2 linked regions of the Homo sapiens genome follow. The protein of the gene in region 1 interacts with the protein of each later gene in a pairwise test. Each region holds a gene or a part of one and is shown in the gene's direction. Other genes may lie near its edges.

Evidence for each region.
Region 2: the proteins of TRIM32 (region 1) and NTAQ1 interact in binary tests that used the Homo sapiens proteins (3 or more experiments, as listed by UniProt).

What each region holds. Positions count from the first base shown.
Region 1 is NC_000009.12:116,693,805-116,697,304, forward strand, and holds part of TRIM32 (E3 ubiquitin-protein ligase TRIM32), read left to right. Parts: intron 1-3,500. UniProt on the Homo sapiens protein: E3 ubiquitin ligase that plays a role in various biological processes including neural stem cell differentiation, innate immunity, inflammatory resonse and autophagy.
Region 2 is NC_000008.11:123,433,774-123,437,273, forward strand, and holds part of NTAQ1 (protein N-terminal glutamine amidohydrolase), read left to right. Parts: intron 1-1,668; exon of another isoform or gene 1,669-1,739; coding exon of another isoform or gene 1,740-1,769; intron 1,770-2,679; coding exon 2,680-2,828; intron 2,829-3,436; coding exon 3,437-3,500. UniProt on the Homo sapiens protein: Mediates the side-chain deamidation of N-terminal glutamine residues to glutamate, an important step in N-end rule pathway of protein degradation.

The sequences.
Region 1 (3,500 bases):
TTTGGGGAAACTGAAGTCAAATTGACCTTCTATCTGAGTCATTCTCAGTATTACAGTAATGACCAGATGTGCCCTTCTGGAGGAGACGGGCTCTATCTGCCTGTCTCTTAGCTCCATTTCAGGCTAAGATCCTTCACAAAGCAGTGTTTTCAAGTCATGGAAGTGGGAAAAGTGGTTCTGGCTTTTTCCAGGTTTGAGACTATTTCCGTGCCTCATGCTTTAGTGAGGGGAACACAGGTTTTCCTGGCAAAGCATGGCAGCTTTGGGGCAGGAATTCTTGACATCCTCAGAGAGCTTGGTGAAGCTGTAGTCAGCTGAGATAATTTGGGGATGTGGGCATAGTAAATTCATTTTTTTAAACCTGATGTCTTAGACAGAGAGGTAGGAAGCTTTTCAATTGAAGGAGGGATATGATATTCCAGAAAGCTTGGGAAATAATTTGCTGCTATTTTTACAAGTTGGCAGCCTTGTTTAATAAACTGATCTGCACTGCCAGCTCTGGGAAGAACACAGATGTCCCTGTGCATTGTAAGGTAACGTTCTAGATTCAAACTCCAAATGTCCTCAGTCTGTTGTCCCAGATGATAGAAGAGAGAACTGTAGCTATTGATTTAGAATTGAGAAGGGTTGCATGGATCCTGAGTTGTAATTTCTCTTTTTTTTTTTTTTTTTTTTGAGATGGAGTCTCGCTCTGTCACCCAGTCTGGAGTGCAGTGGCGCGTCTCGGCTCACTGCAAGCTCCGCCTCCCAGGTTCATGCCATTGTCCTGCCTCAGCCTCCCGAGTAGCTGGGACTACAGGCGCCTGCCACCACGCCCAGCTAATTTTTTTTTTTTTTTTTGTATTTTTAGTAGAGACGGAGTTTCACCGTCTTAGCCAGGATGGTCTCGATCTCCTGACCTCATGATTCGCCCACCTCAGCCTCCCAAAGTGCTGGGATTACAGGCATGAGCCACCACGCCTGGCCCTGAGTTGTAATTTCTATCAGTATGTCTATGCTATTGCCCCTAGACACTTGGCATTTAAGAATTTACCATTCATAGTTTCAGATATCCACATCAGACCTCATACGCTCATGATATATGGTAAATATTATTTTGCTGAGGTATGGATTTGAGTCATAATGGGTTGCAAGCTTGCTGTGTGAGAGTAGGTCACTCAGCTAATAAATCAATCTATCCCACTCTATAGCAGCAGAATCTCATAACTATATTAGTGTTCCTTCTGTGTTATGGAGAAAATGCGTATGCTATAAGGCAGCATTCCCCAGAGCGTGGTCAAGGGAACATTAGTTAATCATTGTTATGTGACAGTAAAAAATAGCTTGAAATAATGTTGGGTTAAATAAAGTAAAAATATCTGTACTTCAAGGTTCCACTATGTTTGAGCTGTGTGACCTTGAGCAAGTTTTTCTGAGCATTCGTTTCCTCATCTGTAAAATAGGATAATAAAAATATTACCACTTCATAGTGTCATCATGAAGATTAAAAGAGATTAAGCATATAAAGTATCTGTCATAGTAACTAGCATATAATAGGCACTAGATGCATAGTTTCCCTTGCAGTACAAAGGAAGTGGGATATCAGGGAGGAAGGATTAACTTTAGATAATTGTGCATGTCTGCTGCTATATATTTGTCAGATTGCATTCCAAAGCTAATATGGTAGAAATTTGTTGTAATGTATATCTCTACATTAACTCCCCTTCTTCTCTATGCCTGGAGAAAGAGTTGATGTCATGTGCAAAGTGTTCTTGAGCTAAATGCATTGTCCTTAAAATCAAACGAACTTGCCCTCCACTTCCTCCTTCTCCTGGGTGGTTGACCATCTGCAGATCACAAGACTGCACAGATACAGCTGTAGGATTTGCGTTTATGAAATGCTGACTTTATCATATGCCTCAACTTGCTAGACCTATTCATTCTGATTTGGGGTATACGTTGACAGTGACCTAAGGCTACAGAGCACTGAGATCTCTCTGGGTCAACTTCATAAGTATATGTATATCAAGAGGGTTGGAGTGTTCATGGTTTGTATTGGGTGACGCAGAGGGTACTCTAAGCCAGAAATAAACTGTCTTGATAAGGCACTGCTATTTTTTAAATCATCTAGGCTTGAGTCTTTGGCTATCTCTGCTCTTCACCACTCCCCCACCATAATCCACTCACCTTTCAAATCTTACTGACTATACTTCTGGATATTGCTCAAATGAATCTTTCCATTTCCACCACCTGCTCCCTAGTTCAGACTCCCCATTATCCCCGTCTTCTCTGATGTTTCCCCACTCCATTCCTGCTTTGATCATATCATCTTCCTGCTTCAAAACATTCATCACCTCACCATGCCCTTGAAAATGACGCTCAAAAATCTCATTTTGGCTCTGAAGACCTTTTATAATTATTCCCCCAATTTACCTTTCCAAGTCTGTTACTCTATTCCCCATATATACTCCCACAGTTTTAATCTAAGGATAATAAAAAAGAGAACTAAAATTCATTAAAGGCTTTTTTGGTGCAGAGCCAAATCTTAGCATTCTATACACTCTATATATTATTTCATTCTTACATTAACTCTGTAAAGACAGTATTTTTCCATTTTAAAGGTGGAGAAAATAAAATGCATAGAGTTTAAGTATTCTCTGTTTTCTTTCTAATACATGAAACTTCTTGTCCTTTCCTTTGCCTTTTATACTTTGTTAAGGTTGTGCCTTTTGCCCACTTCTTTCTTCCCTCTCCATGTATTTATGCATCTTTCCAGGCCAATATAAAATGTCATCTTCCCTTTGAAAATTCTGTATCCCTTCAGATTGGAATGACTCCTCAACCCCCATCAAACTTAGTTTTTATTTCGTTTATAGTACCACTTTCTGCCTTCATTATTATTTACCTACATGTCTTGTCTTTTATAAAGTTTGAATATCTGAAGAGCAGGATCTGTATCCTAAAGACCTCTTGTATCTAGTACAGAACAAGATACCTAAACTTAGATGGGTGGATAGGTGAGTAAGTAGGAGGATAGATGCGTGGAAAATGTGTATTTTCTGATCTGATGTTTTGCAGATCACCTAAAACTAATCATCACAATTTTCTGCTTCTGTGGATGATTCCTAGGCCCCCAAACATGACACAATAAACTCTGTGACATGATTAAAAAAAAAAAAAAAAGCCTCCACACTTTTGCTTACATGGTTTTCTTTGCTTAAAGTACCTTTATCCTCATTCCTTCATTTCTTTCAAGACATATCTTAGGAGTGAAACTGCTTTTGGGAAGCCTTCCCCAAGTCTGTTAGGTAGAATCCATCATTCCATCCACTGTACTCCAGCAGAACATTATGTGGACTTGCATGTTATACTTATTCCTTTTACTGTGCATAATTCTCCTGTGCTTTTCTCTTAGTGTAAATCAGAAGTTGTAAAATTCACCAAATATGAAAATAATCATTAGCTCATTAGCATTTATTACAAGTATACTACTTCCCTGGTGCTATACTAAGCACATCATA
Region 2 (3,500 bases), on another chromosome or scaffold:
CATTTACACACTAATGCTTCTAGCAGCACTATGAGGTAGACCAAGCTTGTCTAACCTGCAGCCTATGGGCTGCATGTGGCCCAAGACAGCTTTAAATGCAGCCCAACACAAATTTGTAAACTTTCTTAAAACATTATGAAATTTTTTTGTGATTTTTTTTTTTTTTAGCTTATCAGCAATCGTTAGTGTTAGTGTATTTTATGTGTGGCCCAAGACAATTCTTCTTCCAGTGTGGCCCAGGGAAGCCAAAAGATTGGACACCCTGGAGTTAGATACTCCAGTTATCTCCATTTTATAAAAGAGCAGAGTGAGGTTGCCGAGGGGAGGGGCTGAGATTGGAACCAGGCGCTTACCTGCTCCTGCCTGCATTGCTCTCCTGCCTGCATTGCTCTCCTGCCTCTGATGTTCTCTGTTCTCCACAATATCCTGCAGCAGTTTACCTGGTTCCCATTCACTTCTCTGGGAACTTCTTGAGGGTGAGAACTTATCTTTTTCATCTTTGCATCTGCAGTTCAGCAGCACAGTCTTTCACATAGAATAGATAATGTGTGGTTCAAAAAAACTGATATGGGACTGGGCACAGTGGCTCACACCCATAATCCCAGCACTTTGGGAGGCAGAGGCAGGGAGATCACTTGAGGCCAGGAGTTCGAGACCAGCCTGGTCAACATGGTGAAACCCCATCTCTACTAAAAATACAAAAATTAGCTGGGTGTGGTGGCGCGCCTGTAATCCCAGCTACTCGGGAGGCTGAGGTGGGAAAATCACTCGAACCCCGGAGGTGGAGGTTGCAGTGAGCTGGGATTGTGCCACTGTGCTCCAGCCTGGGTGACAGAGAGAGACTCTGTCTCAAAACAACAACAACAACAAACCTGTAATATGAATTAGAAGATGTTAAGAGAGAAACAGAATTTGGATAAGGCGGAGATTCTGGCAGGGGGTGGGAGAAGATAAAAAATTGATTCGTGGGAAGAAAGCCTTTAGCTGGAGCTTGTGTGGTAGAAAGAGGTAGAGAAGGTTGCTGCAGATGGAGGGGAATGACATGAGCAGACCCATTGGGAGGCAGTGGTGGACTGTTTGGGGGCGTGGAGGATAGGATGTATCTGGGGAAGTCCAGAGAATAGGCATTCATTTTTGAATCTTTCTGTTTTGCTAAGACAGACTTAGAGCCAAAGGCAGCACTCAGGCTTTTAAAGGCACAGCATCCCTAGTCTTAAGTATTGTTCTTACCTCAGGATTTATACAGGGCTCAAGTAGAATGATATTTGAGAAAGAAAGTGCCTTTTAAACTCTAAGATATTGTAGAAATATAAGTTGGTATTACTAATGTTGCTAGGTTGCTTTGATTTCACAGTGCTGTTCTCTATGAGAGCGTTTTTCTTTGGAAGAACTCAGAGCACCACATTGCTCATGTCCCTTGATCACCTCCCTGAAATCCCTTTCAGCTCATCGCTGGTGTTGGGCAGTACCTTGAGTCTGAGAGTGAGGGTGAGAATTAACATCCACACTGTGACAGAGCTGTGTGGGAAAAGCTGTCTTTTTCTTTCTCCCTTAGTGGCTACAGATGAAAGCTTGGCTAACTTCTTTTTTTAAAAAATAGTTTTTCCTTTCTTTTAATTGCAAAAGTGGTTCCAAACTAGAAATTAAAGTCCTCCTTCTCCTCTCCAGGCTGACCCCCAGAAGCCTCCTTTGTTACTAGTTTGGAGCAGATCCTTGCAGACGTTTTCCTCTGCATTCACATGCATGCAAATGTACTTCTGAATGCGCACGTATGTCTTTATATACAGATAGCTTTTAACAAATAGCAGGTGGGGCCGGCACTGTGGCTCACACCTGTAATTCCAGGACTTTGGGAGGCTGAGGCGGGGGGATCACTTGAGGCCAGAAGTTGGAGACCAGCCTGGCCAACATGGTGAAACACCATCTCTACTAAAAATACAAAAATTAGCTGGGCGTGGTGGCGGGTGTCTGTAGTCCCAGCTACTCAGGAGGCTGAGGCAGGAGAATCGCTTGAACCCAGGAGGCGGAGGTTGCAGTGAGCTGAGATTATGCCACTGCACGCCAGCCTGGGTGATAGAGCAAGACTCTGTCTCAATTAAAAAAAATATGTGGGGCCAGGCACCGTGGCTCACACCTGTAATCCTAGCACTTTTGGAGACTGAGGCGGGTGGATCGCCTGAGGTCAGGGGTTCAAGACCAGCCTTGCCAGCATGATGAAACCCTATCTCTACTAAAAATACAAAAAATTAGCTGGGCATCGTGGTGCGCGCTTGTAATCCCAGCTACTCGGGAGGCTGAGGCAAGAGAATTGCTTGAACCCGGCAGGTGGAGGTTGCAGTGAGCTGAGATCATGCCACTGCACTCCAACCTGGGTGACGAGAGTAAGACTCCATCTCAAAAAAAAAAAAAAAAAAAAAGTTTCCTAGAGGTAAAATTGCAGTTTCAGAGGATGTGCATTTAATGACTATGAACATTTCCATTATTTAACCATTTCCCTATCTGTGGACATTTAGTCTGTTTTCATGTTTTCAGGGTGTTGTGTTTGCTTTATTCTATTTTGCTATTATAAGGAGGGCTGTAGCAGTCCTATATCCTTTTTAGTGATAAGGTATGTGTCTGAATACTGGGATTTCATCATTATGAAGTAACTTGGTTAACTTCAGCAACTTTTACTTTTAGGATTACCATGTTGTTTTGCTTCATGTTTCAAGTGGAGGACAGAACTTCATTTATGATCTCGATACTGTCTTGCCATTTCCCTGCCTCTTTGACACTTATGTAGAAGATGCCTTTAAGTCTGATGATGACATTCACCCACAGTTTAGGAGGTGAGGACATTCAAGATGGATTTACTTATTTTCTGAAGTAAGAATTTGACGATTCCACAGAGGTTCTTTTTTTTTTTGACAATTGTTTTGTAAAGATCTCGTCTGACATCACCATTGAGTTGATGTTTAAGAATGATGTATTTGCAACACAGGAGATTCAAAATGTTTTAAAGCTTTAAAAGTTATCTATCATATGAAAGGTTGTCATTCTTTTAAAATTTTGTGTGATGAGATCTCAGACATTTAATTTCAAGCGGGTTGGGGATTTTTCTTATATTCTTTTTGTTTTTGTGGGGATACCTCGTGCTGTCACCATTGAGAGGGCTGTGAGGGCAGCATCAGAAAATCATGCCCATTGCCCTTGATACACAAATCGAGTAAATCGAGGCAACCAGATATATTTTTGTGCCTTTGCCTTTCTGTTTCGGGGTTTGGTTGATCATTTCCTATGCTTCTCTAATAGGTAGTAAAGTTGCCTGTATTACTAACCATACAGAAATGCATGAGTAGTTTTGTGCATGTCATAGGAAATGAGTCGATATAAAAATGGAGTTAGAATTTCAAACATGACATCTCCCTAATGTGAGTGTATATTGATTTTTCTGCAGGAAATTTAGAGTGATCCGTGCAGATTCATATTTGAAGAACTTTGCTTCTGACCGATCTCACATG